Homo sapiens: one gene and its partners. The protein of the gene in region 4 purifies or fractionates together with the protein of the main gene of each other region. This does not show direct contact. Each region holds a gene or a part of one and is shown on either strand. Other genes may lie near its edges.

The links.
Region 1: the proteins of PIK3C2A (region 4) and AKR1C1 purify together in Homo sapiens (co-immunoprecipitation; one large-scale study listed by IntAct). This does not show direct contact.
Region 2: the proteins of PIK3C2A (region 4) and TARS1 purify together in Homo sapiens (affinity purification with mass spectrometry; one large-scale study listed by BioGRID and IntAct). This does not show direct contact.
Region 3: the proteins of PIK3C2A (region 4) and ALDH1A1 purify together in Homo sapiens (affinity purification with mass spectrometry; one large-scale study listed by BioGRID and IntAct). This does not show direct contact.
Region 5: the proteins of PIK3C2A (region 4) and AKR1C2 purify together in Homo sapiens (affinity purification with mass spectrometry, with the first as the bait; one large-scale study listed by BioGRID). This does not show direct contact.
Region 6: the proteins of PIK3C2A (region 4) and NQO1 purify together in Homo sapiens (affinity purification with mass spectrometry; one large-scale study listed by BioGRID and IntAct). This does not show direct contact.
Region 7: the proteins of PIK3C2A (region 4) and SNAP91 purify together in Homo sapiens (co-immunoprecipitation; one large-scale study listed by IntAct). This does not show direct contact.

What each region holds. Positions count from the first base shown.
Region 1 is NC_000010.11:4,969,915-4,973,414, forward strand, and holds part of AKR1C1 (aldo-keto reductase family 1 member C1), read left to right. Parts: exon of another isoform or gene 1-484; intron 485-2,005; exon of another isoform or gene 2,006-2,115; intron 2,116-2,286; coding exon 2,287-2,396; intron 2,397-2,484; exon of another isoform or gene 2,485-2,669; coding exon 2,670-2,835; intron 2,836-3,500. UniProt on the Homo sapiens protein: Cytosolic aldo-keto reductase that catalyzes the NADH and NADPH-dependent reduction of ketosteroids to hydroxysteroids.
Region 2 is NC_000005.10:33,457,965-33,461,464, reverse strand, and holds part of TARS1 (threonine--tRNA ligase 1, cytoplasmic), read right to left. Parts: intron 2,900-3,500; coding exon 2,801-2,899; intron 1,771-2,800; coding exon 1,604-1,770; intron 564-1,603; coding exon 401-563; intron 308-400; coding exon 170-307; intron 1-169. UniProt on the Homo sapiens protein: Catalyzes the attachment of threonine to tRNA(Thr) in a two-step reaction: threonine is first activated by ATP to form Thr-AMP and then transferred to the acceptor end of tRNA(Thr).
Region 3 is NC_000009.12:72,901,054-72,904,553, forward strand, and holds part of ALDH1A1 (aldehyde dehydrogenase 1A1), read right to left. Parts: intron 228-3,500; coding exon 155-227; 3' UTR 1-154. UniProt on the Homo sapiens protein: Cytosolic dehydrogenase that catalyzes the irreversible oxidation of a wide range of aldehydes to their corresponding carboxylic acid.
Region 4 is NC_000011.10:17,113,987-17,117,486, forward strand, and holds part of PIK3C2A (phosphatidylinositol 4-phosphate 3-kinase C2 domain-containing subunit alpha), read right to left. Parts: intron 480-3,500; coding exon 375-479; intron 1-374.
Region 5 is NC_000010.11:4,990,567-4,993,857, reverse strand, and holds part of AKR1C2 (aldo-keto reductase family 1 member C2), read left to right. Parts: intron 1-1,944; coding exon 1,945-2,027; intron 2,028-3,291. UniProt on the Homo sapiens protein: Cytosolic aldo-keto reductase that catalyzes the NADH and NADPH-dependent reduction of ketosteroids to hydroxysteroids.
Region 6 is NC_000016.10:69,723,761-69,727,900, reverse strand, and holds the start of NQO1 (NAD(P)H dehydrogenase [quinone] 1), read left to right. Parts: upstream 1-1,340; 5' UTR 1,341-1,461; coding exon 1,462-1,468; intron 1,469-4,140. UniProt on the Homo sapiens protein: Flavin-containing quinone reductase that catalyzes two-electron reduction of quinones to hydroquinones using either NADH or NADPH as electron donors.
Region 7 is NC_000006.12:83,587,102-83,590,601, reverse strand, and holds part of SNAP91 (clathrin coat assembly protein AP180), read left to right. Parts: intron 1-3,500. UniProt on the Homo sapiens protein: Adaptins are components of the adapter complexes which link clathrin to receptors in coated vesicles. Clathrin-associated protein complexes are believed to interact with the cytoplasmic tails of membrane proteins, leading to their selection and concentration.

The DNA of each region.
Region 1 (3,500 bases), on a different chromosome or scaffold from region 4:
ATAATTTAATAAAAGCATTGAGAAATTAATGTGGTTTTAATACTAGTAGTTCCCCAATTTTTTAATATGGCCATTTTCACACTTTCCAAAAATTTGATAAAAATAATACTGGAGACCCATGTTACCATTTATATTCAAAATTACTAACATTTTGCAATGTTATATGGAGTATATCTGCATAAATACATATAATGTTTCTAGAACCTCTTCAAGGTAAATTGTAAAGATGACAATTGACCCCTAGAGACCTCTCAAAGCATGTCACAGGAATGAAGATATTCTCCCAGTTCCAGTGTCATTACTGTATCTAAGAACATCATCTATAGTGCCCTCATGTCATTTGGTATCCAGTCCATATTTGAATTTTTCCTTGCTTAATCAAAATATCTTTTGTAGCTCTTCTTTTTTTAACCAGAATTCAATTGTTTTTATATTGTTGTATTTTGATATCAGTTAACTTGTTTTTCCCAGTTGTTGAAGGTTTCTGTAAATTAGAAGTTAGATGAGAGTGTTTTATTACATTGACTTAAACCTTTGGGGCAAGAAAATATTTTTATCATGCTGTGTTTTTCAAATTGCACCACACTAGACTGCATACAATCACAGAATGCCCCACTAGTGGTGAAGGTAGTTTTAAAAACTTGGTTAAGCTCCAACAATGATAGACTGGATTAAGAAAATGTGGCACATATACACCATGGAATACTATGCAGCCATAAAAAATGATGAGTTCATATCCTTTGTAGGGACATGGATGAAACTGGAAATCATCATTGTCAGTAAACTATCGCAAGAACAAAAAACCAAACACCGCATATTCTCACTCATAGGTGGGAATTGAACAATGAGATCACATGGATACAGGAAGGGGAATATCACACTCTGGGGACTGTTGTGGGGTGGGGGGAGGGGGGAGGGATAGCACTGGGAGATATACCTAATGCTAGATGACGAGTTAGTAGGTGCAGCGTACCAACATGGCACATGTATACATATGTAACTAACCTGCACAATGTGCACATGTACCCTCGAACTTAAAGTATAATAAAAAAAAAAAAACTTGGTTAAGCTAACAGTGGTCAGATCTGTTGTTTTTAACTCATGTTTTCTCTTTAACAATTACTAGTAATCTGCTGGGGGATAATTCTCAACAGAAGAAGTCATATTCCCATGACAAATTTTCACATATGATTGAGTATACATCAGTGATTTGAACTTTTTTCTACTGCATTTCTGTTTTCTTCTTTGTTATTTCTTATTTGTTATTTCCTTGGGGTTTTTACATAATCATTTACAATTTTAACCACTTGTTTAACTATTCTTACCTGACATTTAATTAAAAATGATTTCTCACCAAGTAAAAATAATAAACTACTATTCCTCTAAGTGAGGGTAAAGGTGAACTTCTTCCTTCAATTAGCAATGTACTGTGAACGTAATTACTGTAATGACCACCATCAGAGTAGACAAAGATTGTTGTTCTTTTTCTCATTGTCGCACTAATTACTACAGACTCACGGATTCTTGTGTTATGATTTTTAATTTATTTTACTCATTTTTTAATGCTCACATCTACTCAGCATATATATATTATATATATATATATATAAAATATATATGAAAGAAGAATGTGATCAAAGACTCATGAGGGCAAGTGTAAAAGACAAAAGCACTTGTTTCATAGGGAACCCACTGGTGACATTTGAGATATCAACATACAAATCCATCATACAAAAAGGAAAAGTAATGAAAGACTGTGAAAATTATCAGTATTTATGTGTGTATGTATATTTTCTAGTTCATCTATATAGATATATATCATAGATGGCATATATGATATATATATTATATGTCAGATCAATTAGAAAACATACATATACATGTATGCATTTTTGGTATTAATTAGGAAACTAGTTCTTTTGTCTTTCAGACCTGCCCTCATGAGTCTTTGACCAAATTCTTGATTTCTGGCACGATTTGATGCCCAAGGCTCAAAGAATCTTACCTCATCCCAGCTCTGAAATTGGCCGTGTCTCGTTCTAGTGGTCGGAGTTATTGAGAAACCAGGATAGGGTTCATGGAGTTGCTTGTGCTCAGAAATAGCATTTCTATTTTCTTAGGAGAGAGGGGCATAAAATTTATTTTTATGAAAAAGATCATTTTTGACAATAATATTCTCAGTTCAAATTTAATGCTCTACATTATTCAGCTTCTTTTACTTTGGTGATTTTAATATTAGTGTAACTTTTGGATTATCTGATGCTTTTCCATCTTGCTCGTCTGCAGGTGGAATGTCATCCTTACTTCAACCAGAGAAAACTGCTGGATTTCTGCAAGTCAAAAGACATTGTTCTGGTTGCCTATAGTGCTCTGGGATCCCACCGAGAAGAACCATGGTAATAAGAGATACAGGAAGTTTACCTAAAACACCGGTTTGATAAAAAAAATTTAATCAGATCATGCTGTTTCCTGGAGTTCACTCACAGCTGACTTGGGGTGAGGGAAGAATTTGCATTTCTGACGAGATCCCAGGTGATGTTGAGGCTGCTGTTCGGGGGCCTCGCTTGAGAAGCTCCGGTGCAGAGTGGACGCCTTAGTCTGTTTAGGGAGCCGCCTAACAAACTGTATCCCCAGCCTCAGGGCCTCAGCCTTTCTGCCTTTCCTTCCAGGGTGGACCCGAACTCCCCGGTGCTCTTGGAGGACCCAGTCCTTTGTGCCTTGGCAAAAAAGCACAAGCGAACCCCAGCCCTGATTGCCCTGCGCTACCAGCTACAGCGTGGGGTTGTGGTCCTGGCCAAGAGCTACAATGAGCAGCGCATCAGACAGAACGTGCAGGTGAGGAGCGGGGCTGTGGGCCTCAGGTCTCCTGCACAGTGTCCTTCACACGTGTGCTTCTTGTAAGGCTCTCAGGACAGCCTTGGGCCAGCTCCATTTCCCTGTATTTCCTATGCATGAACTCTTTGTGTACGTCATAAGGGTTTCTTCTACTCTAGCACAGGAGAGGCAACAGAGGTGGAGAGAAATAGGATGGGATCAAAACTACAGATTTGGGTTAGCGTTAAGTCAGTGATATCCATATCCCTCTGCTGGGGCCATGTCCTTTTCTTTATTTTTTATAATGAAGCATTGATTAGATGTTCTTTAGTCTCCAACTCATGGCGGATTTTTCTTCTTGTATGTTTATGTAGTATAAATTCCTTATATTTATTCTCTTAGAATTTTATCTTTGCGAAGTGCTTGTTTAACTCTGCCTTTTTTTTTTTGGCGAGGTGGTTGTGTGTCTTTATTTTTATGTGTAGGAGACCATATTTATACCAATACCTTAGGATATAAGACAAACCCACTTAATATAGAGGCTTAATGCAAAAGCATTTATTGAGCTCAAGGTTCCATGGTTAGAAAATTAGCCTGGGCTCAGCCTAAACTCAGTCCATTCCTTCTGTTCCTGGCTGGGCTCTCATGTGTGTTCAGGGCAGTGAGGCAGCTCTGCTTCAGGATGT
Region 2 (3,500 bases), on a different chromosome or scaffold from region 4:
CCATTTCAAAAATACACAATCATAAAGAAAAAAACTAGCTTACACAAACCTAGGAACCATTTCCAATTTCATTTTGCTTTTATCCATTTAAAGAGGCTTGGCTTTCTTACATCTCAGAACAAGCCAATTTCAAACAGTATTCAAAAGCACGCTGAAAAACACCACTTACTTTCTCAGCTTGATCCCATACTTCGATATCTCCAAGGAATTTTTCCGGGCGAGTAGAAAGGTTTAGTTTAAAAGAAAATCCAAATACGCTATATACCGTACGTAGAAAATCCAAACAACCTTTTATTTCATCTTCAATCTTCAAATTAAAAAACAAAAAAAGAAACAGTAGTTATTTTCCTTGACTTTCTTGACTCTTCTTTCTAAGTATTTTATTCCCAGGGTCTCATACCTGCTCCATGGCACAGAATATGTGAGCATCATCCTGTTGGAATCTTCGTACCCGGGTGAGTCCTGTGAGTGCTCCAGACAGCTCGTTCCTATGAAGTACCCCAAAATCAGCTAGCCGCAGAGGCAGTTCTCGCCAGGACCTTGGCCGATGATCAAACATAAGGCTGAAGAGAAAAAGAAAAGTCCACGGACACTTAAGAATAAAACTGCTTCTGTAATGCTATATTTAATTACACGAAAGGTTGTCAAAAAGCCACTGATTCTAGCTGTCCATCCAAGCAACATTTCTCAAATTCTGGGCTACATACAGCAGTAAAAGCACTTGCATGAATAAAACAGCAAATAAGTTATAACTCAATGAACCACAGTGAAGAATTAAAAAACGTATTCCAACAACTGAAGAATCTGGGAAAATTAAGAATGAACTTGGTTGGTCCCCTAGCCTATAATACAGCTTCTTCACAAAGATTCTTCTCTCACCTCCTCTGCCCTCCAGGCCTGGCTAGTAGGAGCTGCAGACACTAAGCTACCTGTATCCACAGCTCTCCTGTGTCTTCCCTTAAGCTGTTCTTCACCCAACTTTCAAAGATAGAAAGCAGAGCGGCCTCATGACAAGGAACATTTTCCAAGAATGCTGAGTCATTAGCAGGTTTTGACAGAACAGGTTTCTTTAAAACAACAACACACTAGGTAATTTGTTACACCCCCATATTTCATCTTCCTGTTTTATAGTCTGCCTTGGTCATTGCTATGATCCCAGTACCATTACTGAATGCCCACAGATCTGGAGATCTGGCTGGGCACAGTGGCTCATGCCTGTAATCCCAGCGCTTTGGGAAGCCAAGGTTGAAGGACCGCTTGAGGCCAGGAGTTTGAGACCAGGCTGAGCAACGTGGCAAGACCTCATCTCTACAGAAATAAAATTTTAAAAATTAGCTGGGCATGGTGGCATATACCTGCAGTCCCAGCTGCAGTGAGCTATAATCGCATACCTGCACTCCAGTTGGAAGACCTCTTTAAAAAAAAAAAAAAAAAAAGTGGGGATCTAATCAGGTGCAGAAGATATAATACAAAGATGTTGCGTTTAAATGCTCTTCTGATCACATAATTTGTTTTTAATGAAAATGTTGTTAAAGGAGGGAAGAACCCAGGATGAATTGTAGCATGTGAAAATCTTCAGTAGAAATTCAAAGCTGCCGAATACCAGTGTCCTGGGCAGTTCATGGGTTTCAGGGCAAACAGCTCCTTCTCCACCTCAAAGGAGAACATGTTCTCGCTGTAGTGCTGCCAGTGGCCCGAGGTCATCCAGAGTCGGCTGTTGAAGATGTTTGGGGTGACTACCTCCTGGAATCCTCTTTTCCTATATTCGCTCTGATAGAAAATAAACAGAAACATGTGTAGGCAAATAAATGCTCATACTTCAAGTGGGAGTAAAAACTTAAAGAGTGATTTTATACTCTCTCATGAAAAAGATGGACACATGCCATGATTCAGAAATCCCACTTCTAAGTATATACCAGAGAGAAAACTCTTGGCACATGTACCTAAGGAGGCTTATAAAAGTGATGCTACTGCAGCATGGCTGATAATAAGGGACAATTATACATCAGTGTCCATCAATACAGGGATGAGTGCATTGTGGTAGTTATATAACAAAATAATATGTAGCAAGTGAAAATAAACTTGATTTGCATGTCTCTAAAAATAAATCACAAGGCAGTCTGATACACAATGAGGCTTCCTATATGTAACACACAAATACATAAATAATTTAAGGGTACAAATACATGGGCTAGATATAAGTAACATGGACAAAAAGAATCCATGCCAACTTCAAAACAGTAGTTTCTTCTAGAAAACTGGTATATGATATACCAGTATATGGATATATATACCAGTATATGGAGGTATATGGATCAAAACTGGGTCCTAAAGAGAGGCTTTTTAAACAACTAATTTTTTTTTTAATATCATGAATGAAAAAATCTCAAGCAAATATAGCCCAATGTGAATATTTGTTAAATGTGGGTAGTTAAGTACAAGATATTGGATATACTATTCTCTATAAACTTATACTTGAAACATTTCATAATTTACAAAGGAAAAAAGCAATGTAAAAACCGTTTTTTCAAAGAAAATACAAATAAATGATCAAAGTCAAAGAGGGCACAGAGCTCCTATGTCAAGGACCACAGGTCCCCCTTCAAGCTCACCAGTTTCTATGTGTATATGGGCAAAATCAACTATTAGGGATGATTTATGAGGCCACAGACTTCTACTTTTACTTATCGTCTTATATATTTCTTCTCAAATACAGATTATCTTTCCTTTTAGTAGACCTTATTTAATAAAATGATCACATATCCTAAATCTAAAGAAGAAAGCAATAAATATGACTTACCCTAATGAATTCAATAAGTGCATTATAAATGTAGGCTCCTTTTGGCAGAAAAAAGCAACTTCCAGGGCTGAGTTCATGAAAGAAATATAGTTCTTGGTCCTGGGTAAAAGAAAAGCAAAAGAATGTTTATGTACGTCACGTATACGTGTGTGTATATATACATAAATTTCAGTGTTCTTGAGCTCAGAATATGGTCATGATGTCCCATATTTCAATCAGTGCCACTCCTGAATCAAAGAAACCATGTCAGTGTTTCTGATGTTATAGAATTGCAGCTGATTTACAATTTGGCAGACGTGTAACACATGCCCTGCCTGTTATATTCCTCAATCCAGTCAAGTTTCCCCAACAGTGGCAGGGAATAAGGGTCCCTTCAGTTCTTTAACTATCCACTGCAGTACCTCTCATGGTTCTTAAATTCCTTAAAGCTCCAAGATCTGGATCTTTTTTCATTTTATTTATGTATGTATTTATTTTCTTAGTAAGAGTATCAGGAAGGAGACTGGGAAAAAGACACTGATAATGAAATAGATGATGGTAAAGTTGGCTGACTTTGGGTCATGGTGAAAGAAACACACCCTCCTACCTCCTTGCCAACATCCGCCTCCCCAAGTGCCCAAAAGCCCTCAGGGAAGGGCCCATCAATCATTGCTGGCTGCCTCATAGCTGGAATGTCAGGTAGTCAGGGGTGCAAGGCAGT
Region 3 (3,500 bases), on a different chromosome or scaffold from region 4:
CAAGTTTTCTATGGGTAGTATTAATACTAATATGATTTAGCTTATGTTTAAAAAAATCAAGAAAAGAAAAATTTTGTCTTTAAAATCTACTATATTAGTGACTGTAAGGAGATGCTTAGCTATTGAAGAGCTTCTCTCCACTCTTGTATTTTCTTTATGAGTTCTTCTGAGAGATTTTCACTGTGACTGTTTTGACCTCTGTATATTCATGGAAACCGTACTCTCCCCTAGAGAGAAGAAAAACATACCCACAAACACCATTTAGCACAGCAGTATAAATATACTGTAGTTCATGTTTGGTACGAGTTTGTTCTTGTTTTACTGGCTAGGGACAATAGAAAATATTTCTTGTGTACAGAGCATTTTATATAGTAGCTAGCCAATCATAAGATTTCTGGTCTTACACAGATTCCCTTGTGGGGAAAATTTTCTTTAAAACTTTCATTTTAAATAATCATGTACTGTCAGTTGATTTCTCACATAAATTGTCCCCTTTTGACATTATTCTACTTGATTTTAAAAACTCGAACTGCAGATGCAACAAGATCATCTTGGAGAAATGAAAACAAAAAGCTCTAAAACTACTCAAAAGACAATTCGACCCAACAAGAATTTTGTCATTTCTAGTTTAGATTGAAATAAGATGGACATAGGACAAGAGGAGAAGTAGTAATATATGATCACTACAAGGTCTACTCTAGTTCTACAGTTTTATTGTAGTACTAGAGCAGAGCTTGTATTTACCATGTGTGATTGTCATAGAAGTGGTAAGGGGATAGAAATTGATCATGGTTTCATTTTTAGTCTGAGGTGCCCTAAGATGGCTTGAAACAAAATATTTTGCAGCAGTAGTTTCAGCAAAATCTTTTGATTCTTGGCAAAACAAAAACATGACCTTTATTTTTTATTTAAAACTTTTAAATTGTTTTCTTTTTAAGAGGAGGAAGATGATAGATTGGTCTAAATTCAGGCTCTTGGGCTTTTTGCAGTTGTTGTTTTTTCCCCTTTATACAACCTCCTCGTCCCCTACCATTTTCTTGTATAACTCTTAAGTTCAACCCAAATGATCAGGAATTAACTCAGTCAATCAGTTTGGATTTTGGGATCTTGTTATCAGGTTTATGGAGACCTCCCACCAGTTTTAGAAACTGACTGATTTACCCCTTGTTGAAGAGATGACTAAAAAGATTGGGCTCAGTTATTCTCTATATTGTTTTGATAAGAGGATCAAATTACATGTATATAAGAGTAGTCTCAAAATCATAACACTCATGCACATGTAGGCTTACAGAAGAATAAGATCTTGATCCTTTTTTACCCCTCCCTTCTTGTGATGTAGACAGGTATGTAGAAGACATCATTTTCTGCTGGGTAACCTAATACTCTTACACTGATTATTTTCTTGGGCAATTAAGCTTTTGAAAATACCTTTTAAAAGCTTCAGTGAGCATGGTCCTTAAAGTAATTAAAGGGCTTAGCCTCAGTTGTCTGAAACCCATTAAAAGATAATATTTTAATAAGTATTTTATCTCAGGGTTAGATCAATCAACCCATGACTTTCGCCAATAGGCTTTCCATTGTATTTTGGGTCATATAGGCACTTGAAGCTCTCAGGAGAGTAATAAGTGGGATTTTTGTCATATTCAGGCTGAAATATGTCCTGCTCCTTAGGATTCCTATGCCTATACTATATCTACGACATAGCCCCAAACATCTGTTTGGATTTCTCTTCATCTTACTATGTCTGTGAGTTACTGTTTGTATACTTCTAAAATCTTCAATGTACAAATCACCTGGGACCTTATTCAAATACTGATTCTGAATTAGCAGGTCTCGAGTGAAGCCTGAGTTGGCATTGGTAATAAACTTGCAAGTGATATCAACCTATGCTTCTTGTCCAGGGTCCACACTGTAAAAAAAAAAAAGGCACTAGTACCACATTACATCTGATTTCCTCTCTGTACCCAGGATTAAGACTGGCACTAATTAAGTAGGCACAGAAGAACTGTTTGCTGAACACACTTGGTAAATATCAAGAAAAAAAATTCATTTGTGTTCTCACTATACGACCATTAGTTTACACTTCCTTGCTCCCTTTTCTATGGGACAGGAGGAAAAAAATATGGTGGGAGGGGCTAAGAGCCAATCAAGTTTAAAATGGCATACTAGCAAAGTCTTAAAGGACCTACGTTAACCTAAGTGAAACAGTACAGTTACACAAAGGGAGGAATTTCTGTCTTTTAACTAATCCCAGAGCCAACACTATGATCAGAGATGCAAAATCAAGATTTGCATACTCTGTATCACCTTCAAACACACTGGGGTCTGCATAACACCATTTTTCGCTCTTTGAGGACTCTGTTCTCAACTGATCAATTCTCTCTATTGTTGAGGAAAATTTATAATTTAACTCTTGGGAGTCATTTGAGGTTATCGCCTGAGTAATAACTTGTAACTCTTGGAACATCTTGCAGCAAATGACTTGGTTATTAAATTCACCAAATTTGGTTTCAGGTACACTTTAACTGTAGCATTCTCTAGTTGAATTTTTGAAGTAAAAAAAAAAAAACCCACAACTTTTTCCTTTGTATTTGAAAGAAATTATCTATACTCATGTTCTAGATTTTTAGGAAATTACTGATGGTTGATTCCTGTTTTCAGTCCTTCTCTTATTTGATTTCTTTATGCCTTCACCTTAAAGTCTGACCAAATTATGTTCAACGAAATTGACATGTTTGGTCTACTTTAGTCTTGCATTCCTTTTGATTATTTTATCTTTAATGTTCTCAGTGAAATGTGTTGTTAGATAACCAGGCCAGAAACGAACCAACTGCCCTTCAGAGTAATCTAACCTTTGTTCTTACTTTTTGTACAAAGTAATTAGTTTTGCCAAGAGATTCTCCAGTAATAGAAAGAGAAGAAACTAGGGAAGGAAGAAACCCATTTGTTGAATTTACACTTTGTGACAGTTATGTGGCTAGGGATTTAATATTCAGTATGTCATTTAACTCCCACAAGAACTCTCATTCCATCTTAAGAGGAATGTGAACATCTCCACCAAATATGAGAAAGTAGAGGCTCAGAAGTTAGGTAGCTTGAACTGGGGTGCATGGCTAGCAAGTGGCAGAATTAGGAATCAAATTCAGCTGGTCAGACTCCAGTAATGTTTTCTCAGCTACGCCATGCATTTTTGATGGGCTAACTTTTTGTTCTACTTCAGCAACATCCTAAATATATCCATGGCTTTTCACTACTCCACTAATAAAATCTAAGTCAAATTTCTTAAATGCAGGACTTCTTAATCTGTATCATATGTTACTCTGAAATCATATTTTTCATCCCCATAAATCCACACCAATCAACAAAATTCACTAGCCCCTCAACATACCACATGTAATGTTCCATGCAAGAAAGCCCTCTTCTCTACTAACTGATATCCTACACTTGCTTTCTGCCCTAGAGGAAGTTTCATCTCTTCTGTTAGGAGAAGTTTTCTTCTC
Region 4 (3,500 bases):
GGAGAATCGCTTGAACTTGGGAGGTGGAGGTTGCAGTGAGCCAAGATCGCACCACTGCACTCCAGCTTGGGCAAGAGTGAGACTTTGTCTCAAAAAATAAATAAATAAATAAATAAATAAATAAATAAAAAGGTGAGACCAATTTAAAAAAATGAAGCCCAAGGCAGTAAATAATTTTATACTTTTTTTTTCCCAGGAATGGTGGTTAGGTAAAAAAATATGCTAAGATAAATATGGATCCTAATCACAACCATCCATGCTTATAACCAACCTGTGCAGGTTTTACCTTCATTTGCCTTAAGCATACCTGCCCATTTGCCTTCTTCCTATTATTTTCAAATGTAATATGAACTTATAAGTATTTTATGTGTCACCTTAATATTTAATTCTTTTGCCACTAGACTTGGCTTGAGAGGGAGACGGCATTTATTTTTCTGAAAAAAGGACTGTACTCGTTCCATACTTCTTTGGAGAACAACCTATAGAAAGAGATGTGATACTGTAAGTACATAATGAAAATGAAGATCTATTTTTCAGACAAGTTATGCTGTGGATACAATTTATAAAATGCCCAGTTGTCAAACGGTGAAAAAAAGGTTGTTACTAAAGAGAGTTAATTTTTACTATAAAACTAGAATGGCCAAAGGCTATAAATATAGTGGGCAAAGGTACATTTGGCCAACCAATGTATACGAAAATGTTAAAGCTCACTAATAGTCAAAGAAATAGAAGCCAAACAAAAATGAATGCAGTTTTTCACCTATCAGATGAAAATTTAAAACAACATCCTGTGTTAGGAAACGATTTCATAACTTATTGGTAGGGAGAGAGGTGTACACAGGTGTAGCTTCTTTTGTAGAGCAATGTAACAACTATTATAACTAAAAATACATGTCGCTCTTGACTCAGCTATTTCACCTGTAGGAATTTTCTGAAAGAAATACTAGCAAAGAAATAAAAATGTACACACCAACCAAAGTTCATTGCAGTATTGTTTAGTAAAGAGAAAACAGGTAAACAATGTATATAGAGGTAATAGTTTATAATTAAGATTGTATGTAATATTTCCCCAAATTAATCTATAATTCTTATCAAAATTCCAACTGCCTTTTTGCAGCAATGGATACACGGTTCCTAAAATTCATATGAAATTGCAAGTGTCCCCTGAATAGCCAAAAATAATAATGAAAAAGAACAAAGTAGGAGGACTTACATTGTCCAATTTCAAAACTTACTATAAAACTATGGTAATTAAAAAAAGTATAGGCTGGGTGGATGGCTCATATCTATAATCCTAGGACTTTGGGAGGCCAAAATGGGAGGACTGCTTGAGCCCAGGAGTTCAAGACCAGCCTGGGAAACATGGCAAAACCCTGTCCCTACAAGAAAAAAAAAAAAAAAAAAAAAAGACAGGCATGGTGGCAAACACCTGTGGTCCCAGCTACTTGGGAGGCTGAAGCGAGAAGATCACTTGAGCCCAGGAGGCTGAGGCTGTGGTGAATTGTGATCACACCACTGCACTCCAGCCTGGGCAACAGAGAGACCTCATCTCAAGGAAAAAAAGGAAAAAAAAAAAAAAAACAAATATAGCATATGGATAGACATATATGATATAGAATTGAGAGTCTAGAAAAAAACCCATATATGTGGTCAACTTTTTTATTTAAAAATTTTTAACAGAACACTTCACGAATTTGCATGTCATCGTAGTGTAGGGGGCATGCTAATCTTCTCTGTATCATTCCAATTTTAGTATATGTGTTACCGAAGCAAGCACAGGGTCAACTGATTTTTGACAAGTACGCCAAAACCATTCAAGAGGAAGGAGGGGGTCTCTTTAACAAATGGTGCTAAGACAACTGGATAACCTCATTCAAAAGAATAAAGTTGGGCCTCTACTTCATACCACAACGGATCAAAGACCTAAACATAAGAGCTAAAACTAGAAAAGCTTAGAAGAAAACACAGGTGTACATCTTTATGGCATTAGATTTAATGATGGATTCTTAGATATGACACTAAAAGCATGAGCCACAAAAGAAAAAAATAGATAAACTGGACTTCATCAAACTTAAACATTTTTGTATTAATATATTAAAGGACACTATTAAGGAATTAAAAAGACAACTGCAGAATGAAAAAAATATTTGCAAATAGTGTATGTGATAAAGGTCTAGTATCCAAAATATATAAATAACTCTTACAACTCAACAACAAAAAAGACATTCCAATTTAAAATGGACAAAGGACTTTGAATAGATATTTCTCCAAAGAATACAAATGGCCAATAAACATATGAGAATGTGCTCAATATCATTAGTCACTAGGGAAATTCAACTCAAAACCACAACGAGATACTGCTTCACACCCACTAGAATGGCCATAATCAAAAAACAGGAAAAAAAACAATGTTGGTGAGGATGTGGTGAAACTGGAACCCTTCTATATTGCTGGTGGGAATGTAAAGTGATATAGCTGCTACAGACAATAATTCTATGATTCCCCAAAAAGTTAAGCACAGAACTACCATATGACCTAGCTCTGCCATTCCTAAGTGGAAACAGTTGTTTAAACACAAATTTATACATGAATATTCATAGCAGTATTCTTTTTTTTTTTTTGAGACAGAGTCTTGCTCTGTCGCCCAGGCTGGAGTATAGTGGCTCGATCTCGGTTCACTGCAAGCTCCGCCTCCCGGGTTCACGCCATTCTCCTGCCTCAGCCTCCCGAGCAGCTGGGACTGCAGGCGCCCGCCACCATGCCTGGCTAATTTTTTGTATTTTTAGTAGAGACGGGGTTTCACCATGTTAACCAGGATGGTCTCGATCTCCTGACCTCGTGATCTGCCCGCCTGGGCCTCCCAAAGTGCTGGGATTACAGGCATGAGCCACCACGCCTGGCCAGCAGTATTATTATTAATAGTCAAAAAGTGGAAACAACCCAAATGTCCACCAACTGATGAATGTTTAAACCAAATGTGGTATATCCACACAATGGAATATTATTCAACCAAAAATGGCATGTAGTACACATGCTAGAACACAGATGAACTCTGAAAACTTTATGCTAAGTGAAAGAAACTAGACAGAAAAGTCCATGAAGTGTCCAGAATATCCATATAGAAGTATAGACGTATCCATATTGACAGAAAACAGTTTAGTGGCTGGGAGGGGAAAATGGGGACATGCTTTCTTTTTGGTGTGATGAAAATACTGTGGACTTTGATAGTGGAGGTAAAGGAATTCAAGAAAACAATTTTCATCAGAAAGGAATAAATAAGCATGGAAATAAATAAGCATGGGAAAATCACTGATTTTAATAGGTTGTGAAATATGTTCCTATATATTTTAAACAATCTTTGAATTTATCTGCCCCAAATAGCATGGGTATAGTTAGAGTTCTACTGGGAGTCTACCAATAAAGAATAGCAACTTAATTAGTCAGCACCATAAAGATCCTTCCTTTAACATTAACACATTTATATTACCTTTTATGGGTAC
Region 5 (3,291 bases), on a different chromosome or scaffold from region 4:
TATGTTCTCTAATTCATCTAGTATATATAGATATATATGATATATGACATATGTGTTATATAATATATATGTTAGATTAACTAGAAACCATACATATATATGTATTTATTCTGGATATGAATTCTTTAGAGACTTGAATGTATTCTTGAAATAACATCTCCCAAATTTTATCTGCGTTGTCATATTCTCTGTGGTTATGTTTTCACAAACAAAAGTTTCTATCCTTCATGTAGACTAATTTTTCATGCCTCTTTCTTGTGGTTGGTGTGTGTTGTGTCTTATCCTATATTGGGAATATCACAATATTTTACTGTGTTATCTTACAAAATTGTTAATATTCTTTCCTTATAAATTTGGTTAATTCTAATGGGTATGACTTTTAAAATATTATGTGAAATAAGGATCCAAATATGCGTATCTAATTTTTGAATTTTTAGCAAAATTTACCATTTATTGAAAAGTTTATATTTGCTCACATAACTTGAATTTTTTTACCTGACACATATATGAAATGTCCATGAGCAATTATCTGGCCTCTCTTCCATCTTCAGTTAACTTATTCACTTTTCTGTGCTATAATGTTAAAAAGTAAGTTTCACTTCCAGTATGGTACAAATATTTTTCTAACTTCTTCATTTATTTAATAATATCTTAGCTATTCTTGACTAATGTGTTATTTAAAATTTTGAATCATCTTATTAACTTCCACAGGCAAGTAAATGTTTTAGTCTCTCATTGACATTGTAATAAGCCTGCAGATCAATGCAGAGAGAACTGAATCTTTGACAATATTGAGATTTCCAGTCCATGATCATAATATGAATATCCCACTACTTATTAATAAATCATCTCTTAATAAATATATCATTAATTGCATAAATTTCTCCATTACTGATCATTTTTTTTTTGAGACAGAGTCTCGTTCTGTCACCCAGGGTGGAGTGCAGTGGCACGAACTCGGCTCACTGCAACCTCCACCTCCCGGGTTCAAGCAGTTCTCCTGCCTCAGCCTCCAGAGTAGCTGGGACTGCTGGCGCATGCTGCCATGCCCAGCTAATTTTTTGTATTTTAGTAGAGACGGGTTTCACTGTGTTGCCCAGGCTGTTCTCTAACTCCTGAAATCAGGCAATCCTCCTGCGCTGGCCTCCCAAAGTGCTAGGATTATAGGCGTGAGCCAACGTGCCCGGCAATTACTGATAATTTTAATAGTTTTTGATAACTTTTCATTTTCATTTTGTGGATTTTCTAATATATAGAAATATTAAAAGAATAATGCAACAAATCTTCTTACCTACATTCATCAAGTGTTACATTGCTGTCATTTTTTACTCTCTTTCTCTCATTTTCTGTATTACTCCTTCAGTTTCCCTATGGATTTATACACTTATTTGATTGAATGTATTAGAAAGAGTGACATCTTTTTGATATTTAGAGTCTCCCAAATTTACATAGTGAGTACCCACACCTTTTGAATGTGAAATCGTTAGTATTTAGACAATTATTGGCTTGAGTGATGTTGAAAACTGATTTTTCCTATTATACCTGTTCATTGGAGAGATAGATATTCAATGTTATTCATCAAACCTACTAAATTATGCTAGACATTACAAAATTTGCCTCTAGATTCTTGTGGGTCTTCTAGGTACATGGCCCTATCATGTGGGCACAAAGTAAGCTCTGTTTCTTCTTCAGCTTCCTCTGAGATATTCTCTTCATCTGCAGTGTTGTGCAGTTTCAAAATATTTTATCTGGGAATGGATTTCTGCTTATTTTTGACTGGTTTTCATTGACCACTTGGGTGTTTAGAGAGGTCTTTCATAAATTTTGGAAACGTATCAATCTTTTAAGTATTGTCTCTGCACCCTACTGTCTGATGAACTTGGTTGTTCCCAATTGGCAATGATGTAATCTAAAAATAATTAAAGTTTTCTATTACTTTGATAGGTGTTTGAATTCCAGTTGACTTCAGAGGAGATGAAAGCCATAGATGGCCTAAACAGAAATGTGCGATATTTGACCCTTGATATGTAAGTAATTTTGGAGATGGTTGTCCTAATTTATTTTCAGAGGAGGAACGTAGGATGGGTGTTGAGAGTGACCTCCACACCAGGGGCACAGAGGCCAACGTGAGACAGAGGTGAGACAGGAGCTTTCTGGAAGTCTCCTCCTGGATTCACTCCAGAGCTCTGTTCTCTGGCAGGGAGAGTGGCCTGGGGTCAGCATGGGTCAACCTGTGCCTCTGCTCTCGTGACTCCAAGGAACTTTCCAGAGCAGCCAAGATCATTGCTGAATCTGCACCTTCCATGTAGGCCTGCCGTTTGTATTACTGTCTAGTGTACACACTGTGGATATGGCCCATGTGGTCGCATTAGATGTTTCCAAATCTGTGCTTCTATCTTGTTCTTCCCAACCTGCTCAATGTCTTACCAGATCAAAGGCAGTTCCGTCAATCTTGTGGGCCAGGTTCCAATTCCCACCTCTTTCACATGGAATTGCTTGCTGGATCCTGTCAATTTAGCATTTTTAATCATTTCAAACCTTTTTCGTGCCTTTCTTTGCATGTTTGCCCATGAGCCAAATACTGCATTTGCCTCCAGAAAGTCTGTCTTAGTGGAGCGAATAGGAGCACTTGGCCTTGGTGTTCTGCAATATGGAGATCTCAGTGTAGAGAATGAGGAAGTGTTAAAATCAAATGCAGAGTGTAGATGCAAAAGCACCATTATTGGAGATAATTTATAACCAGTAACAGACGTTTACTATTCCTCTATATTCTAAGGTTCTAGGATTCATAGAAGGTCATTCAAATAATGAGGGAAAAAGAAGTTATGTAACTGATGGCAGTGGAGATTTTAACAAGTAATAGAGATGATGAGATAATGTGTGAAAAAAACAAGCACAATGGTACATCATAAGTACCCAAAATTTGGTGGATATTATTAGTAGTATTTTATCCACTTAGCAGAAAATACAAAATGAAAATGGAAATGATAATAAGAAAAGGAAAAGTGGCAAGCATTAGAAATGTTTACAACTGATTAATGTTTTTTATGATCATGAAATCAATCACTAGTGTTATTTTGTAGAACTCAAATATGGTCTGGAGTAAACCACTTGCGAGCTTCCAAGTGTTTGCTCTCGGTGTAATCACAAAGGATAGGCTCAATTCCGTAATTAACAAGTTATAACTGTATATGTGAGCAGTCATTTATCTGTGTCTTTACATTTTGGATTATGTCTACCTATAAAATGGTTTATGCATTGTAGCTCTTTGAATATTGGGCCCTATAACAT
Region 6 (4,140 bases), on a different chromosome or scaffold from region 4:
AGTAATTTGTAAATACGTGTAAATAATATAGTCCTCTCTTGTTGCATCAAAATGAATGCAAAAATGTCACGATGGGGCCGGGCGCGGTGGCTCATGCCTGTAATCCCAGCACTTCGGGAGGCCGAGGCGGTAGGATCACCTGAGGTCGGGAGTTGGAAACCAGTTTTCTGGTGCCTCCTTAACTTTTGCACTGGAGGGACAACGGAAGGGCCCTGTGTCATCCTCACCTCCCCCATCTGTGATTCTTCTGATGGTTAATTACCACTTTAAAGCTCTAGTTCTTTTTCCTTCACCTACTGAGAGTATATCTCCTTCTTTACAGTAACTTTTACTTTATAGAGTTTTTTTTGAGACGGAGTCTCACTTCGTCACCCAGGCGGGAGTGCAGTGGCACGATCTCGACCCACTGCAACCTCCGCCTTCCGGGTTCAAGCGATTCTCCTGCCTCAGCCTCCCGAGTAGCTGGGACTTACAGGCGCCCGCCATCACGCCCAGCTAATTTTTCAGTACAGACGGGGCTTCACCAGGTTGGCCAGGCTGGTCTCGAACTCCTGACCTCAGGTGATCCACCCACCTCGGCCTCCCATATTGCTGGGATTACAGGCGTGAGCCACCGCGCCTGGTCCCGTTTTGGCTATTCTTTAATATGCTTCCCTATAACTGCTATCTCCACACCAGCCTTGCCTTAGCTCATGGGAAACAAAACCAATTAGTTCCCCCATTACCTGCCTTGAGGAGCAGGGGTGGTGCAGTGGCATGCACCCAGGGAAGTGTGTTGTATGGGCCCCCAAGTGCAGAATCTGAATCTTGCAAAGGAAGAAACAAATTCGTCTCCACGGAGCATGTCTCCCCAGGACTCTCAGCCTTCCAAATCCGCAGTCACAGTGACTCAGCAGAATCTGAGCCTAGGGCACCACAGTAATCCGCATCCGGCTCTTTTTCTGCTCCATTTCGTGCCAAGGCTAAAAGGGCATGCCCACTTGATCCCTGGACTCTCTTGGGACGACTTCCACCCTGCATCCTCTTGCACCTCAGGGCACAGTGCGCAGATGGGCTTGCCTTAGCACCCCCAGCCAGATTTTTGAGGCCTCTGTCACACACACCCCTACAATCCCCTCCCCCAGCCCCGAGAGACTTTTCTTGACTTCCACCAGTTGCTCCGGCGGGTGAGAGTGGAGAGGCCCCTCCTTCATCCCCCAGGCTCCCTCCCTTCCTGGAGCTGCAGCCTCAGCATCCTCCGCCCAGCACCCCAGGATTCAGGCGTTGGGTCCCGCCCTTGTAGGCTGTCCACCTCAAACGGGCCGGACAGGATATATAAGAGAGAATGCACCGTGCACTACACACGCGACTCCCACAAGGTTGCAGCCGGAGCCGCCCAGCTCACCGAGAGCCTAGTTCCGGCCAGGGTCGCCCCGGCAACCACGAGCCCAGCCAATCAGCGCCCCGGACTGCACCAGAGCCATGGTCGGTGAGTGCTGCAAAGGGCGGGGTGCTTGGCGGTCGTCTCTCGAGCACTGGTGCCTGTGGAGGAGGTTGTAGGGGCTTGGCCCTGAATTTTGTTCCTTGACTCAAAACCCACAAAGGGAAGAGATTAGGGACCTGGGATGAGCCTTGATCGGACTCCGGGAGAAGGAGAGCTTCTGTTTGTATCCGGTGTCGCGGATCCTTCCTCACTCCACCCCACGAACTCTAGTGGGCATTTAGGAGAAACTTGACCTTGGAAGCAGAAATTCCCTCCAAAACTGTGGTCAGAAACTGGCCGTCAGAGGCCAAATCAGGCTTACGGTCACAGCCCATACCTCTTTTGGTCTATAGTATCTAAAACACTTTGAAATAAGTTGCTAACATTAAAATGGGTGATTTCACTTAAAAATGTGGATTCCGAGCTTCTGAAGAAAATGAGAATATCTGGCGATTGGTGGACAGGAGTGGAGGAAACTGATGCCTTTGGTTTGACGGAGACCAGAACCGGCTCCAGGCTGCCAGGCACAGGTTTTGTTTTGTTTTGTTTTGTTTTGTTTTGTTTGAGACGGAGTTTTGCTCTTGTCGCCCAGGCTGTAGTGCAATGGCGCTATCTCAGCTCAGCGAAACTTCCGCCTCCCGGGTTCAAGCGATTCTCCCATCTCAGCCTCCCGAGTAGCTGGGATTACAGGAGTGCGCCATCATGCGCGGCTAATTTTTATATTTTTAGTACAGACGGGTTTCGCCAAGTTGGCCAGCGCGGTCTTGAACTCCTGACCTCAGGTGATCCACCCACCTCAGCCTCCCCAAGTGCTGAGATTACTGACGTGAGCCACCGTGCCTGGCCTTGGGAGGCATTTTCCATTGAGGCCCTTGGATTAGGCAAACCTGATCAGATCGTACTGGATCCGTTTCTAGTATTGGGTCCACTTCAGTGATAGAGCCTTCCCACTCGGCCATCGACCCTAGGGGAACTCAGAGGTCACCCCAGCTCCACCCAAGGCATAAATAACCAGCTGAGACAACTGCAGGGATTGAGAGCTGTTTCCCAAATAATCTCACTCTGAGATTGGACAGTACTAAGATTTAGAAAGCTGTTGCCTCATCTGGGGCAGAATCCTGTGTTTTGTAATTTCCTTCCCTGTGGACCTGGTCCTGCCTCTAAAAATGCGCCTGTACACAAAGAAGCCCATCTTGGTCAAAGTGAGTGGAGGAACAGACTGCCCTTGCAGTTGACAAACTGAAATTATCAGGATCTCTGAGAAAGGGACTAAGCTGGGGATTGGTAGCCCAGCATGAGTTACTGGCAGAGACAGCAGGGAATAGATTCTGACAGCTGAGAGGCTTGCCGCATACACGGTGGTTGCTGTTTCCCTTGTATTTCATTCTTCAGCGTCGAGGCACTGGCACCCTCTCCTCCAATACTAGGGCAGGAACTATTTCCTGACTTTTCAATCTTACAGAATGTTCTGTATTTACGTGTAGCTTAAACACAAAAAAGGGCGGTGGTAATGAGGTGAAAAGGGAAGACTTGGATCTTGTATAATTAGTTTTAGCTGTACCCAGCTAACCAAATCTTGAGGTTAACTAAAGCATCCAGGTTTTTTGTTTGCAACTAATAGATGCATCTGATTTGCACTCATGTTCCCTGGAGCACTCAAGTGAGAAGAGAAGGCAGAAGGAGAATGCATGAAACTGATACAAAGGCTTATCTTTATCATACTTCTTTTTTTCTTTTTGAGACAGGGTCTTGCTTTGTTGCCCAGGCTGGAGTGCAGTGGCATGATCAGGGCTCACTTCAGCCTTGACCTCCTGGGCTCAAGTGATTGTCCCATCTTTGCCCCCGAGTAGCTGGGACTACAGGTGTGTGCCACCACACCCAGCTAATTTTTTTTGGTCAGAGCAGAAGAACTTGAAACCCAGCTAATTAAAAAAAAAAAAAATTTTGGCTGGGAGTGGTGGCTCATTCCTGTAATCCCAGCACTTTTGGGAGGCTGAGGCGGGAGGACTGCTTGAGGCCAGGAGTTCAAGACCAAGATTCAGCTCAAATGGCAAGCTCCTCTGAGGGCCTTTCCGAATGGGCCAGCCCTGAGGTCCTGAAGTTTTCCTCTGTTGAACTTTTTGAGATGGAGTCTCACTCACTCTGTTGCCCAGGCTGTAGTGCAGTGGCGTGATCTTGGCTCATTGCAATCTCCACTTCCCAGGTTCAAACGATTCTTGTGCTGCAGCCTCCCAAGTAGCTGGGATTACAGGCGCCCACCACCACGCCCAGCTAATTGTGTATTTTTAGTAGAGACGGGGTTTCACCATGTTGGCCAGGCTGGTCTCTAGCTCCTGACCTCAAGTAATCCACCCGCCTCGGTCTCCCAAAGTGCTACGATTACAGGCATGAGCCACCACACCCAGCCTTCTGTTGAACTTTGTCCCTTACCTCTCCTAACACACTAATGCCATTGTACCCTGAAGAGGTTATCCGTGTGTGCATCTTGTGGCCTCTCTCAGGGTAAACTCTAATAGTCTAACTCCTCCCAGGTCATGTTGCTCAGCTAGTTAAGTGGCAGGAAGGGAAAATGAACCCTCCAGGGCCCAGAAAACTTTTAAATTGCCTATTCACAAGCATCTTTTTGTTTGTTTGTTTGAGACAGAGGCTTGCTCTGTTGCGCAGGCTGGAGTGCAATG
Region 7 (3,500 bases), on a different chromosome or scaffold from region 4:
TCAAAACTGCTATTACATAGACCACTGTTTTTGTTTTTTGTTTTTTTTTTTAACAAGCTGATCATTTTTCTATGTGAAAACTCATGGGGTGATCTCAGCTCAACAGGGTCATAGTGTGAAATAGATTGGTACAGTTTGCCTTGGATTACTGCTTGTGGCCCAAGTAGTATATATAGAATAAAAGGAAACAGTTCAAGGACTCAAAAATAGTAAAAGCCAAGTATTGGTCTTCCTTGGGAGCAAGACAAAGTGTGTGCTTAGTGATAGCCTTGACCTAGAAATTATTATTTTCATAAGCAAAGCATTATGAAAGACCAGTTGCAAGACCACAGTAGTAAGTTTAAGTTCAGATTATTAGTCAAACTCACAAGACATTGTTGGCTTACCTTACTCTGATTTTACTTAGACAGGTACATAACAGGAAGCACAACAGTAGTTTCACAGAGGACTCAGTCACTCAGATGCAGCTTCTGAGGCCCCTCCACAGTCACCACAAGGGTTGAATTTTGGTCCTAAGGTTGACAAGGGGCTGACGAGAGCATGGGTCACATCACCACTGGGAAGCTGCCATGCATGTCTGAAGTCTTGCATCTTAAATACCGTGCTAGTGCTAGCCATGTAGACCTTGATAAAGCATATGAATAGTTCCCTTTTTTAGTGTGGATATAGCCCATAAAATTACAAGTTATACAATAAACAATCCTGGCACCAGGTACAGCAAGCTGAGGAACATTTATTCTTGGATTAGTGGTGAGTAATGGCAGATGCTAAAAGACCCTCATCAGCCTTCAGAGTTGTAGGGAGTTTGAGTTGAGGTCAAATCTTTCCTCAGGAAGCTAAAGCAGGTAGTCGTAGCCCAGCTGTTAACCTTTCCTTCCATCAGTAATTCAGACTGGCTATTTAACAGTCTTTCCCAGGGGCAATAGTTCTCTAGTGTCTTTCCCATCCTTTCCTGACTACTATGATCAAACATAACAGTCTTGCATGCTGAAACCACTCATACCAGTGACTACCACTAGGTATTTTCCTCAGCACTGAAGAACCAGGGCCCCACCATGATATTGCTGAGAACTTATGCTGAGAAGCTAGCATAAGAAATTTTAACTTACTTTTAATTTCCGTAGGGCTTAATTTTGGGGGCTAATTTTTCATACTTCCCTGTTTTGTTATAGAAAAATATTTCTCACCCTTGTTCAAGTATCAAAACATAAGGAAATCATATTCTCACTAAAGAACATCATGGAATATTTGGAAGTTGCAGAGATGATAAGAGGCAGTACACTTAACACAAACCACAGCTGGTTACTTGGAGAAATAAACTGCTAGTTTGCCTGGCTTTTATCCAGGCCTAGATATTCTTATATCAGCTTCCAATTGGCTACAGAAACTTTCAAACTCTTACTAAACCAATAAACTTCATACACATTTTGGGGGTTCAGCAATAAGATTTTAACATGCCACAGAAATAGCATAGTTTTAATGGCTATTTGAGGGATCATGACCTTGTTAACTTTAAAATGAGATTAGTGATTACAAACATTTTGCTTTGAAGTTATAATTAAGATTAAAACGGCCCATAAAATCAAATATTCTGGCCTTTCACAGAAGCCTATGAATTCTTTCTTTCTCTCCTGGGTATCCCATCCCCTGCCACAGATCTCAAATGGGAATTTGAAGCCTACCAGACAGTAGCCTGGCAGAGCGGTCAGCCACTGTTGACCACCTCCAGTGCTACACAGCCACATTGTCTACTCCAGGATCCTCCTCCATTGTGGCCTCTCTGTGTCCTCCAAGGCTAGAACCTGAGATATTGTGTTTCTCAAAGAGCCCAGAACACTAGAAACTGGAGCTGAAAGGCCTTTTCCTGTGGGAAAAGGGAGTGTTCCCATCCAATTCCAAGTTAGAAGTCAGTAACAGAGCCAAGAGATTTGACCCTGGGGGATGCAATAAGAATCTAAAAACACATCTAGAACAAGCCTGAAGGGGTTTGTCACCTGCTGCCAGGTGTAACTGCACATACCTGTGCCACAGCTGCACAGCTTGGTATATGGACAGGTCCAGCAGGGGAAGTCTACAAAAAAAGTATGTTAGTTCACTTTACAAAAAATAAAATTATTCAATTGTGTTGTCTATTCTGAAATCTTATTAAAATGGGGTAGAAAAGAGGAGAAAATCATCAATGAAAGTACCCAATGTCATCTACATAGGTCTCATTTACTACACACTTTCCATTTCTTCTACTGCATCTTCTTGTGACTCTTTCAGTGATAGGCAAAGTTATATATTGTGTACACTTTCTTATTTCTCTCTTTTCTATTTAAATAAATTAATATTCAATGTAAATCAGTATAGATGAGTTTAATGTCTCATTTGCTTTCAAAACAGTTCTTGTAATTTAATGTATACATATGTCAGTGCCTGATTTATTTGGCACAATGTGAAATATTATTTCACCTTATATCCTGATATAAGGGGTTGGATGCAGTGTCCCACAATCATAATCCCACCACTTTGGGAGGCCCAGATGGGCAGGATCACTTGAAGTCAGGAGTTTGAGCCAGCCTGGCCAACATGGTGAAACCCTAATCTCTACTGAAAACAAAAAACAAAAATAAGCTAGCATAAGAAATTTTAACTTTTAATTTCCATAGGGCTTAATTTTGGGGGCTAATTTTTCATACTTCCCTGTTTTCTTATAGAAAAATATTTCTCACGCTTGTTCAAGTATCAAAGCATAAGGAAGTCATATTCTCACTAAAGAACATCATGGAATATTAATATAATTCTATCCTGTGAACTAGGAGCAACTTTCCTAGCCAAAAACAAAAAAATAAAAAATGAAAAAAATTCTGCTAATAAACGCAATATAAAACCACAGTCACATTTATATTTGTAACCTAGCTGACAATTGGCTGTTTCTGAGTTTTCACAATTCTCGTACATTTTTATTTAATGCATATTAAGTAGGACAAATATTTGGGGCACTGTGTGTAGTAATTTGCAGTGAAGCTTAGCATTTGTATTATAGTTGTGTCTGTGTTTATTTGGGGGAGGGATCAGCTAAGTCCACAGTCTATTGAAACTAAGAAGATTTTTAAAAAAAAATAAATAAATGAGCCTAGTCATACATAGCAAGCCCACAAATATGATCAGAATCAAAGAGAGAGAAGAGAGAAAAAGATTCTCTAGAATCCTGTGATTGCCTTTAGTAATAAAACTGTTTTGAGAAAGAATGAAAAAGAAAAATAATATGCAGACACTGTCATGGGAGGTTTAGACTGTTCAAAGGGAACCTTGGTCACTGGACTAAGGACTCTTACCCCATGCCTAAGATTAGATTTTTTTGAGTGAATACATTTACATGTGAATCATAAAGATAAGGCAATAAATATATGATATAATTAAATTTTAAAATGATTTTAGAGATTTTAAACTAAACATTAAGAACCATTTTAAAATTGAGGCGAAAGCTTTGTTAAAAATTGGTATCATTTTGAAAC